3 separate regions of the Homo sapiens genome follow, and regions 1 and 2 are each linked to region 3. The links come from fine-mapping of genetic effects on gene expression. A gene starts in region 3. Each other region holds a variant in brackets. All regions are shown on one strand. Distances are from middle to middle. Region 1 overlaps CCDC175 (coiled-coil domain containing 175). Region 2 overlaps LINC01500 (long intergenic non-protein coding RNA 1500). Region 3 holds the start of L3HYPDH (trans-L-3-hydroxyproline dehydratase).

Region 1 (4,131 bases), 64 kb after region 3:
TGCAGAAGCAGAAAATGAAATACTGCATATTCTCATTTATAAGTAGGAGCTAAATATTAGGTATACATGGACACAAAGATGGGAACAATAGACACTGGGACTCCAAAAAGATGGAGGGAAGAAGTGGGGAAGGGTTGGAAAACTACCTATTGGGTATTATGTTCACTACTTGGGTGACGGGATCATTAGCAGCCCAAATCTCAGCATTATGCAATATACCCTTGTAATAAACCTGCACATGTGCTTGAATCTAAAAAAATAAAAATAAAAAATAAAGGATAATAGGTGATTGCTAGGCCTAATTCTAGGAGAATGAAGAATCCAGAGCGGTAAGGCTAGCACTTAAAATTCCTCTGCCTTGAAAACACTTACTAACATAGAAGAAACCACTTGAAAACCAAGTTTTGGGTTTTTTTGCATGGCAAGTGGAACAAAAGCCAACATGTAATGCTCATCCAGGTGTTGAGCCTACATAAACCTCCCACTATTTTAGTCTGGGATTCCAAAGAGCTTCACCCTTTGGAAGGCTGAGGCAGGAGGATTGCTTGAGACTGGGAGGTCCGAGGCTGCAGTGAGCCATGATCATACCACTGCACTCTAGTCTGGGTGACAGAGTGAGATCCTGTCTCAAAAATAAATAAATAAATAAATAAAAAAGAATGCACAATTAAAAGATGAACAAATATCTAGAGCTTCTCAACATTTGAGTAAAATCAATACTGTAAAACAAAGCAATCAAAATCTACTATAGGCCAGGTGTGGTGGCTCGTGCCTGTAATCCTAGCACTTTGAGAGGCGGAGGTGGGAGGATCACTTGAGCCCAGGAGTTAGAGACCAGCCTGGGCAACACAGGGAGAATAGGACAAAAGAAACAGGTGAGGACATAATGGCTGAAAATTTTGCAGAACTTATGAAATATAGAAATTCTCAGATTTAAGAAGCCAAATAAATCCCAAGGAGGAAAAATGAAAAGAAAATTTGGACACATCATAGTGCAACTGAACAGCTAAGGCAAAGGGAACAAAGAAGATCTAAAACAAAAGACATATGCCATGTTAACGGATTGGAAGCCTCAATACTGTGAAAATGTGAAACCCTCTTCAAACTGATTTACAGATTTAACACAATCCCAATCAAAATCCAAACAGGTTTTTTGGAAGAACGTGACAAAATTGAAAAGGTCAAGAATAGCTGGAACACTTTTGAAGAACAAAGGTGAAGGATTTATACCACTGGCCATAAAAACTCATTTTAAAGGTACTAATTAAGACAATATTGTTTTAGTGTGAGGAGAGATGAATAGTTCAAATGAATAGAGTCAACAATCCACATATACATTTATGATCTATACTTGATTTATGACAATAGTATGACCACAATGTAGTGAAGGAAAGGATTGTATTTTCAGTAAATGGTGCTGGTTAATTGGACAACCTTATGGAAAAATATGAATCTTGACCACTATCTCAAAGCACATACACATAAATTCCAGATGGTTCGTAGTCTTAAATGTGAAAGGTCAAACAACAAAGCTTCTCAATGGTAACAGAAGAGAATAGTCTCATGACATAGGACATAGAGAACATTAACTAAAAAGATTGATAAACTGGACTTCATTAAAATTAATAAATTATATTCATCAAAAATATGTACATAAATATTGTATATTTATGGTTTATGTATTGTTCTGTAATGTGTAA[T/C]ATTTTATAATAACAAAGCTAAATCCAACAATGCCACTGCTGGGTATATATCCCAAGGAAATGAAATCAGTATGGCAAAGAGATATCTGTACTTCTATGTTCATTGCAGCACTATTCAGAGTAGCTAAGATGTAGAATCAACCTAGGTGTTCATCAGCCGATGAATGGATAAAGAAAATGTATACATGCACAATTGAATATATTCAGCCTTAAAAAAGAAGAAATTCTTGTCATTTGTGACAACATGGATGAACCTGGAGGACATCATGTTAAGTGAAATAATTCAGGTACAGAAAAACAAATATTACATGATCCCAATTATACGCAAAATCTAAAAAAAAACTGAACTCAGAAGTAGAGAGTAGAATGGTGGTTGCCAAGGGCTGGTGAGGGAGGGGAGATGCTGGGAAAAAAAGGTAAAGTTTGAGTTGAATGTCAATCTTTGAATGTTCCTCCAATAACTCATGAGAATTATGATTGGATGTCACTAAGAGCCCATAGTTTCTACCCTAGTGAAAATAATAAATAAGCAAGAGCCTTGCATTCTTTGAAGTGATCACTCACTTATAACCATGGAATTTGGCTAAGGGCTATGGATTAAAGGAAAACTCTTTGACCAAGTAAGCCATGCCAGTTTAGGGGTCCTAGACTGTTCAGAAAATCATGTGGGCTAGAAAATGTGGAGTTATTGTCAGAAAGTTGTCTACTAGCTTCTGCAGTAGGAAACAAATGGGAGGAAAAATAATATTTTGCTCACAAAATGAAAGACAAATTCGAAACCAACCAACCAGCCAACAAACCAACCTTGTCTGGTTTCTGTCTGTTGTTAGGTATCCTTGCAAATAAAAGAATCACAGTAGCCCAGAGGGGAAGCCATCTCTCATGCTGATAGCTCACAAAAGCAAAAATGGAAAGCATTTAATTGGTACAAATCATTCTTCTGGGAGGGAGCTGCCTTTGATATCCCTGATGAGCCTCAGGGCATGGGTACAGAGGCAGATATTATGCTTTGTAAAAGAGGGAGAAGAATTTGGATGTGGGGTGGTATCCTACAGCAAGAAGATAGATGAGGAACTGTGAGAGAAAGAAAAGGTGGTGAACAAGATGGCTTTGTGCTCTGCAACAGGATTTCTCCCCATGACCACTAAAATTTCCAACAGAGTTTGCAATAGATCATGAAATGCTTAGTGTAATTAAATTTGTTTTAGAAACTAGTGAAAAATGTGAATTTTATATCCTGGTTGACTTGGGCAAAACAAAGATAGAGGATGTAGACAGAGAGTACCTGACCCAAGTCCTGAACAATTAAAATTAAGTATGTGTGGCTAGGGGTGGTGGCTCACGCCTGTAATCCCCAGCATTCTGGGAGACCAAGGCAGGAGGATTGCTTGAACTGAGGAGTTCACAACCAGCCGAGGCAACATAAAGCGACCTGTCTCTGCAAATAATTTAAAAATTAGCTGGGCATGGTGTTGAGTGCCTGTAGTCTCAGCTATTCAGCAGGCTGCAGCAGGAGGATCACCTAGGCCTGGGAGGTTGAGGCTATAGTGATTTGTGACTATGCCACTGCATTCCAGCCTGGTGGGTGGATCATTTCAGGTCAGGAGTTGGAGACCAGCCTGACCAACATAATGAAACCCTGTCTCTATTAAAAGTACAAAAATTAGCCAGGTGTCATGGCACAAGCCTGTAATCCCAGCCACTTGGGAGGCTGAGGCAGGAGAATCGCTTGAACCCCAGAGGCAGAGGTTGCAGTGAGCTGAGATCATGCCACTGCACTCCAGCCTGGGTGATAGAGTGAGACTATGTCTCAAAAAAAAAAAGAAAAAGAAAAAGAAAAAAAAGAAAGAAAAGAAAGGAAATTAAGTTTGGATATATGAGGTGTTGGGAAGAGATACTAAGGATATTTCTCCTTCAATACAAGGGACAAGAAGAATTTCAGTTATGTCTAGTGTGTATGTATATTTGTGTGTATAAGTAATTAAATGGGATCATATCATACATACTGTTGTTTCTCTTTTTTAGAGGGACTCTTGCTCTGCCCCCAGGCTGGAGTGCAGTGGTGCGATCTCAGCTCACTGCAACCTCTGTCTCCCAGGTTCAAGCAATTCTCCTGTCTCAGCCTCCTGAGCAGCTGGGACTACAGGTGCACACCACCACACCCAGCTAATTTTTTATTTTTGTAGAAATGGGGTTTCACCATATTGGTCAGGCTGATCTCAAACCCCTGACCCCAGGTGATCCACTCACCTAGGCCTCCCAAAGTGCTGGAATTACAGGCGTGAGCCACCATGACTAGCCTACTGTTTTATAATATAGTATTTGTCACTCAATAACGTATTATGAGCAATACTGATACTTATTTAACCAAGGCCTTTTGGTTGAATTTTAATTGTATTACTCACCCTCACCCCCAATTTTTCACTATCCT
Region 2 (4,131 bases), 620 kb before region 3:
CTGTGTCCAGGAATTTATCCATTTCCTCTAGGTTTCCAGTTTGTTAATATATAGTTATTCATAATCATCTCTGACAATTTTTCCTATTTTTGTGGTATCAATTGAAATGTTTCTTTTTTATTTCTGATTTTGTTTACTTGAGTCTTCTCTCTTTTTTTCTTGGCTAGTCCAGCAAACAGTTTATCAATTTTATCTTTTCAAAGAACCAACTTTTCATTTTGTTGATCCTTTGTATTTTTTTAGTCTCTATTTTGCTTAGTTCACTCAGATTCTTATTATTTCTTTTCTTACAACAATTTTGGATGTGGTTTGTTACTGCTTTTCTAGTTCTTTAGGTCCATCATTAGATTGCTTATTTGAATTCTTTCTATTTTTTTTTGATGTAGACATTTATTGCTATAAACTTCCTCTTAGCATTGCTTTTGCTCTATCCCATAGCTTTTGGTAGCTTGTGTTTTGATTCTCATTTATTTCAATAAATTATTTGATATTCTCCTTAATTTCTTCCTTGATCCGTTGGTCATTCAAGAGCATGTTTGTGCAGTTTCCAAGGTTTCTGTTATTAATTTCTAGTTTTATTCCATTGTGGTATGAGAAGATGCTTGATATAATTTCTATTTATTTTTTTTTGATATTTGTTTTGTGTGTTAATGTATGGTCTAGCCTAGAAAATGTTCCATGTGCCGAAGAGAAGAATGTATATTCTATAGCTGTTGGACGAAATGTTCTGTAAACGTCTGTTAGGTCCATTTGGTCTAATGTGCAGTATAAATCCAATGTTTCTTTGTTGATTTTCCATCTAGATGATCTGTCTAATGTTGCGAGTGGGGTGTTGAAATCCCAAACTATTGTCATTTTGGAGTCAGTCTTTCCCTTTAGATCTAATCATATGTGCTTTATATGTCTACATGCTCCAGTGTTGGGTGCGTATATGTTTAGAATTGCTATATCCTCTTTCTGACTTGATCCCCTCATCATTATACAATGATATAGTAATTCTTTATCTCTTTTTACCGTTTTTGACTTAAAGTCTGTTTTATCTGATATAAGTACAGCTACTCCTGCTTACTTTTGGTTTCTGTTTGCATGACATACCTTTTTCTATCCCTTTATTTAGAGTCTGTATGTCTTTACAGGTGAGATTAGGTTCTTATAGGCAGCATATACTTGAGTTTTTAAAAATTCATTTGGATAGTCTGTATCTTTTAAGTGGAAAGTTTAATCAGTTTATATTCAAGGTTATTATTGATATGTGAGGGCGTATTCCTATCACCATAGTAATTGATTTCTGGTCATTTTGTATATCCTCTGTTCCTTTCTTTTTTCTCTTATTGCTTATTATTTTAGTTTGGTGGTTTTCTGTAGTGGTAACATTTGAGTCTTTTCCTTATCTATTTGCTCTACCAGTGGGTTTGATATTTTTGTGTGTTTTCACGATGGTAGATATTGTTCTTTCACTTCTGGGTGTAGAACTTCCTTAAGCATTTCTGGTAGGACCAATCTAGCGCTGATGAATTCCCTGAGCTTTTGCTTATCTGGGAAAAACTTTATGTCTTCTTCATTTATGAAAGACAACTTTGCTGAGTATAGTACCTTTGGATGGCAGTTGTTTTTCTTTCAGCACTTTGGATATATCATCCTATTCTCTCCTGGTCTGTAGGTTTCTGCTGAGAAATTTGCTGTTAGTCTGATGGAGTTTCCTTTATAAGTGACTAGATGCTTTTCTTCTGCTGTTTTCAGAATTCTCTGTTTGTCTTTGACTTTTGACAGTTTGACCACAATGTGCTACGGAGAAGACTTTTCTGAATTGTATCTATTTGGTGATCTCTGAGTCTCCTGTATCTGTCTGTCTAAATCTCTTGCTAGACTTGGGAAGTTTTC[A/G]TCTATTATTTTGTGAAATAAGTTTTCTAAACTTTTGGTCTTCTTTTTGCCTTCTAGGGTACAGAAATTGGAATATTTGGTTGCTTTATGGTCTCCCATATGTCATGTAGTCTTTGCTCATTCTTTTTAAATTCGTTTTCTTTTTTTTTTGTCTGACTGGGTTATTTCAAAAGACTTATTTTCACATCTTAAACTTCTTTTTTTTTTCTTGATCTAGTCTAGTCTATTGTAGAAGCTTTTGAATGTATTTTGTAATTCATCCAATGAATTCTTCAGTTTTAAAATTTATGGTTGGTTCTTTTTTATGAGATCTATCTCTTTGGTGAATTTTTCATTCATACCCTGAATTGTTTTTCTGACTTTTTTGTATTATTTTTCAATATTCTCTTGCATCTCACTGAGCTTCTTTAATATCAATATTTTGATTTTTTCTGGGATTTTGTAAATTTCTTTTTTATTGGAATCTGTTGCTGGAGAGTTATTGTGTTCCTTTAGAGATGTCGTATTTCCTTGCTTTTTTATGTTCCTTGTGTCCTTACACTGATATTTGTGCATCAGTGTAGCAGTCCCTCTTTCAATTTTTTGAATTTGCTTTCATAATGGGGTGCTTTTTCCCTGAAGATGTATGTATGGTGTTGATTGGGTAGGGCACTTTGGCTTTGATTCTTGGCGTGTGTAGTAGTGTAGTCTGTGTATGATTTCTTCAGCTATTAACAGAGTTAGTGGTGCCTGTGATTTACTTGGTGGCCTAGGGTTCAGTTGTTAGTGGAGGTTGTGGTGAATTTTTAATGGAGACTGGGATACCAGGTGGGCCCGTCTTCCAGTCCTTGTGGTACAGTGGTGGGCTGAGTATGCTTATTCTTTGGCCCCAGAGTGGTATACATTGGCACTGGTGTTATTGTGTCCAGGCAGACCAATTCTTGGGCCTCCAGGTGGCTTTCGAGAGTGCCAGGAGTGGCAGCCATGGACACTATGGGTGGGCAAATTCTTGGGCTCCTGGGCTGCAGACGTGGCATAGGTGATGTCAGTAGTAGTGGCAGGATACCCTCTGTGTCTCACATTTGTGTTGGCAGTATATGCAACAGGCTGTGCTTGCCAGTGCCCAGGCCTGCAAATGGCATATATGGGTGGGTATCAGCTGTGGTGGTAGCAGCAGGTTGGGTGAGCCCAACCTCAGGCCCCCAGGAGGAATGCTCAGGTGCCTATGATGGTGGAGTGGGATGGTGGATTGGGCTCTATGCCTCAGATAGTGTGCTTGCATACTAAGGGTATGGAGTCCAGCTGGGAGGACCTGCCTTTAGCCCTCGCCACTGGTGTGTATTCAGGCACTGGATGTGGTAGGCAGGGGCAGGGCAGTCTGCAGGTCACTGGTGAAATGCTTAGGTAGGGGCAGCAGTGACTATGCTGTAGGCCTGCTACTAGGAGGGTGGGGTTGCTTTCACTGGGAGCAGCCACAGGCAGGTAGCCAGGGGTGTATGCTTTGCTATTGCTTCGGCCCCTTTGCAGCAGCCCACAGCAACACCAGCTGCAAGCAGTGTGAAAGTGCATGGCCACCCCTTTGCTAGGGGTTGGGTTGAAGTTGCCTGTGGCAGCTCAGCCTTCATCCTGGCAGTGGCAGCAGTTGGCAGTGGTAGCAGCATGGTGTGGGGTGGCTTTTGTAATGGATGCCCCTCTGCTGGTGGGGTCGGGTCACTGCCAGTGACTTGTGTTTTGGCACTTATGGTGGCAGCAGCCAGCTGTGGCAGTAGCTATGGGTAGGTTACCCTTCAGGGGAAGTAGCTGCTGGTGGGGAATGTCACTGGGGCTCTGGGGATATGCAGATGCAGGGGCTATTTTTCCCCAGGGCAAGATACAGACTGGTAGGAAATGGGATCTCAAAATAGTGTTGTGCTCTAGCTGCTTTGGACTTAGGAGGTGTATAGGACTCAGTGTGAGCTTCCTTTCTGGAACAATGCTGTTGTGCAGTCTCCAGACAGCTCCCTATGTTGGTCTTAGGTCCTGTGAGGGTCAAGGGGCTCTCCTGTGGCTATAATTGCAGGAGTCCACAGTGGGAATGTGGACCACTTATCTGTTTCCCACATTGAGGAGTCTCTCCAGGCTCCCAGCCAATCTTGGCTGAGCAGGCTGCTCCTCTCCTTCCTGTCTTAGGTATGTCCTTTCACTCCTCTGTTGAATTTCAGTGTTCTCTCTTAGATGTCTATTCAAAATGTGATTATCTACTTACTATGTTGGCTCTTCCTTGTGAAAGAG
Region 3 (4,131 bases):
ATAGGTTTCTCAAGAGGACCAGATGTTTACATTTGTCAATCAGCATATTCTTCTCCAAATTTCATTTATTTAGTTACTCATTCAACAAACATTCATTGACTGACTACTCTTCTAGGCACTTAGAATACTGTGAACAAGAAAGAGTTTGCATTTTAGCCTGGTGGGGTGGAGATGAACTCAGCAACCCTCTGAGGTGGGTACTGTTGTCATCCTCATTTTGCAGACTGTGATACTGAGGCATGGACTCTCTAGCACAAGGTCACTGAGATGGGGAGAGGTGGGGCAGTGACCTTGAACACTATGTCTGCCTTGTATGCATTTTTCAAAGTAGAGAATATAGCATTTCATTTTCTTAACTCAGTGACCATTAATGCCCACTAATCATTGTACTGTCATACAGTGATGCTCTCAGGAACTACTGAGAGGAACTACTGAGGTCAAGTGGTTGACTGACCCTGCCCTAACTGACCCAGAAATGAGATGTAGTTTGTGTTCCTGCTGCCAGCTGCCATTTCCTACAGAAGTCTAGAGTGTTTCTACTCTGCTGCTGGAGTTGCCTAGGGGGAATTCTGGTAGCCACGCTAGTTAAACTGTTGAGGTTTTAAAAATGGAATCGTAAACATAAATTCTGTCTCCCTCAAGTGGCCTCCCAGTCTGGAAGTGACACCATTCTCTGGGAAAATGGCATCAATTTCTCCAGAGGCATTCTTCGTTAACTCGTGGATTTCAGCTGCCTAAGGTTGCTCTAAAAGTGCCTGTTCTATCAGTTATCATTCATAATCAGGCTAATCTGAAACCTAGTTCTTCAGGGGGAATCAAGGTCCAACTTTCTAACAGATGATTTGCATGGCTTGAAGATTTTTAAGAAAAGGATAACTCTATTCCTGGTAAACTGGCTCCTGGCTCACTTCCAGTCACAATGACTAAAGCATTCTTACTGATAGAATTCAGCTCCTGGGAGGTAGTAGTCTGATGAGAAACCAGATGCCAGCTTGCCAGGTCATCCCTCCTGTAAGGGTTATGGTTATAGAGATGCCCTGCTTTACATGATAAGCTGTACAAGGATCTGTACTAGAGAATCCAGCAAAACCTTTTAATGGCTCAATAGGCCTAGGGAACTTTAGCGATCATATAAACCTTGCAATCTATCTCCAGGAATACAGTATCTTGCATACTCTCATTTAATCCTAACAAAAAAACTCTATGAGGGAAAAGAAGAAACACAGGCACAGAGAGATTAAGTAATTTGCCTAAGGTTGCACAGCTTTAGGGGGTTATCAGGATTTGAAACCAGGCAATGTGTGTTCCTGTTCTTAAAGAAAAGCAACATTCGTATCTTAATGATTTATAAACTGCTTTGTTCATTCATTCTCATTTAATTCTTCAAAGAAGTGGGGGAGGTGAGGAAAGGAGACCAGGTTTAGTAACTTATTAAGTGTGATTCTGTGTCTACCAAGCATATTCTCAGCCAGCCTGGAACCCTGGTACATTGGCTGTTCTTCGCTCTTTCCTTGACCCCACCGTACCTTGCTTTATCCACCGGTGAAATCTCTAGGAATGCCTCACCAGTGCAGAGGGAGGCGCTGAGTCAGGGTAACACGCAATTCCTCGCTCCTCAAGGGTCTCCCAAAACCACAGGCGGATGGGAGTCAGGGAAAATCGAAATTACACGCACCAAATACGCAAGGCTGCTGACACACGTTGGCAGTGATTTACCTTTCTATTAATTGCAAGGTTTCGCGGAGTAGGTTAGTTGCCAGAGTTCCAGCCCAGAAAAACCGTTAATGTAGTTAGTCGCGTCCCGGTTGCAGCTCTGCCCTGGGCTGGAAAGGTCCCGCCCATTACCTGTGGCCAGCACGAAGGCCGGGACGCTGTGGAAGCGCACCGGTCCGTGGCTGCGGCCGTCCTCGCATGCCACGAAGGCGGTCACCAGCCCGCAGGGGCAGTGGATATTGACGCGGGCCTCGCGGGTGCCCGCAGGGGGCGCCGGCACAAGCCCGAAGTCCAAAGCGAAGCGGCCCAGCGCCAGCACTGCGTGGCCGCACATGGAGCTGTAGCCCTCGTTGTGCAGGAACAGGACGCCCAGATGCGCGTCCGGCAGCTCGCTCGGGACTAGGACCGCCCCGTACATGTCCCGGTGCCCTCGGGGCTCGAACATGAGCCGTCGCCGCACGTGGTCAAGGTGCTGGCGCATGTAGCGCCGCTTGGCCAGCAGGGTGGGCCCAGACACCTCCGGACACCCCGCCAGCACGATACGCAAGGGCTCGCCGCCCGTGTGCATGTCCACCACCGACAGCACCGGCGTCCCTGGATCATGCGGGGGCAGCCGGGGCACCGCCAGCGCGCTCTCCATGGTCTGCGTCGGGGGAGACGAGTACGGTCCCGCAGCTATGGCTTCAAGCCCGACCCTCACCCACTGACTCCGCGGGAGGAGGGCGGGACGCTAACCAGCCACGTCCGGGGGGCGGGGTCTCGGAGCCTAAACCCGGAAGCGAGGGAGGAACTTCGGAGCTGTCGCCCGGGTTACCGGGAGGCGGAGCCGCCGAGCTCGCTGTGGCCCGGATGTTCGGTGCAGCTGCCAGATCCGCTGATCTAGTGCTTCTCGAAAAAAACCTTCAGGCGGCCCATGGGTGAGTGGTCGCCAAGATCCCGGGAAGCGTTTCTGGTAGTCCCGACTACTTTCCTACACGGCTGGCCTCGGGCTCGGCTCTTTGTAGGCGGCCTTCGGTTGGCGGCGCAGGCTCGCCCCTTGACCCCGCCCGCCCTCGGGCCGGGCTCCGCACTCCTGCGGGGTTGGGGTGGTCTGTCCGCAACGGGCTACTAGGGGAGGCGCGCTGTCTGCGGCGAAATGCCAGGTCTTTGTTGTTTGGTCCGAAATGTCTCTTCAGTCCCTTAGTTTAATGTCGAGGGAACACTTGCTTGAGGGTTGACTTCGGAATTGAAAACGCGGGTGATAGTGCAGAAAAAACAGTAAAGCAGAAGCAAGTTGCTGCATAATTTGTCTACTGCTTCAACCTCAAACGTAGATTTATAGCGCCCGTCACAAAGGGCAGGACCGCTGCAAAAAAATGGAATCTTAAAACTTTAGCCATCGTTCGCTAAAGGAAATGAAAGGAGAAATTCAACAGTCGCTTGGAGCCTGGGTTTTGCTTAGTAAGTGATAGGCTGTTTATTTCAGTTCAGTTTATCATACTGGTTTTCAGGCCTTGGATTTTGAGAAACTTTAGATTATTGATATTCACGTGTATTTATTAAGCATCTACTAGATGTAAAGCCCATACAGAAGTTTCCAATTCCTTACCTTCTGCATTCTTGAAAAACCTGAAATATTCATTTTCATGTATTAATTTAGAACATTGTGATTACAATTGGTTACAAAAAAAATAAGCGCCCATTAAAGAGGCCAGTGGGTTTAAAAAGCTAAGTCCGAAATTTGTTAAAAGCGAAAATATTAAACTGGAGGAATATTATTCAATGCTGTTTCTCTTTTTCTCTCAGCAGCATAAGGAGAAGGAAGTAAAAAGTCTGCTTGAATGTGAAAGGAGAGAAGGCACTGTAGACCAGGCAGTCTAGATTGTGAATTCGTGAATAATTTGGGAAATGATTGTTCAAGAATAGTCAAAAGATGCATAATTTTTCAAATTAATTCACATGTAGACCGCAGTTTGTTTTGAGACGGAGTCTCCTTCTGTAGCCCAGGCTGGAGTGCAGTGGCGCGATCTCGGCTCACTGCAACCTCTGCCTCCTGGGTTCAAGCGATTCTCCTGCCTCAGCCTCCCCAGTAGCTGGGACTACAGGCGCGCGCCACCACGTCAGGCTAATTTTTGTATTTTTAGTAGAGACGGGGTTTCACCATTTTGGCCAGGCTGGTCTGGAACTCCTGACCTCATGATCTGCCCACCTCGACCTCCCAAAGTGCTGGGATTACAGGCGTGAGCCACCTCACCGAGCCTGTTTGTTTGTTTTAATCAATGAATGAATGAAGGGAATCAGATGTCACTGATGAAGAAAACTTCCATAATTTCTTGTGAATAAGGTCAAAGACAACGTATTAGGTTCTTAGTTGTTGGGGTTTTTTTAAGTAAGGAATAGCTGCTTTTCCCCTAAGCCTTTAGATCAGGGGCTTAATTT

What was found. PIP is the estimated chance that this variant, and not a neighbour inherited with it, causes the effect. A credible set is the group of variants that fine-mapping cannot tell apart.
Region 1: its variant is the best candidate, but not a certain one, in a credible set for the expression of L3HYPDH in whole blood (TOPMed, PIP 0.64).
Region 2: its variant is the best candidate, but not a certain one, in a credible set for the expression of L3HYPDH in ovary (GTEx, PIP 0.87).

The regions. Positions count from the first base shown.
Region 1 is chr14:59,546,208-59,550,338 of GRCh38, forward strand. The region is part of intron 8 of CCDC175 (coiled-coil domain containing 175); the gene reads right to left. Among named protein-coding and RNA genes, the nearest start is that of CCDC175, 29 kb to the right of the region's middle. The variant T/C (reference allele first, on the strand shown) is at 1,701.
Region 2 is chr14:58,857,125-58,861,255 of GRCh38, forward strand. The region is part of intron 1 of LINC01500 (long intergenic non-protein coding RNA 1500); the gene reads left to right. Among named protein-coding and RNA genes, the nearest start is that of LINC01500, 31 kb to the left of the region's middle. The variant A/G (reference allele first, on the strand shown) is at 1,882.
Region 3 is chr14:59,481,964-59,486,094 of GRCh38, forward strand. It overlaps L3HYPDH (trans-L-3-hydroxyproline dehydratase), which reads right to left and starts at 2,445. Exons shown (of 5, transcript NM_144581.2): 1 at 1,846-2,445. The coding sequence starts at 2,353. JKAMP (JNK1/MAPK8 associated membrane protein) reads left to right here and starts at 2,554. Exons shown (of 7, transcript NM_016475.5): 1 at 2,554-2,630. The coding sequence starts at 2,627. RefSeq lists an enhancer at 2,520-2,799.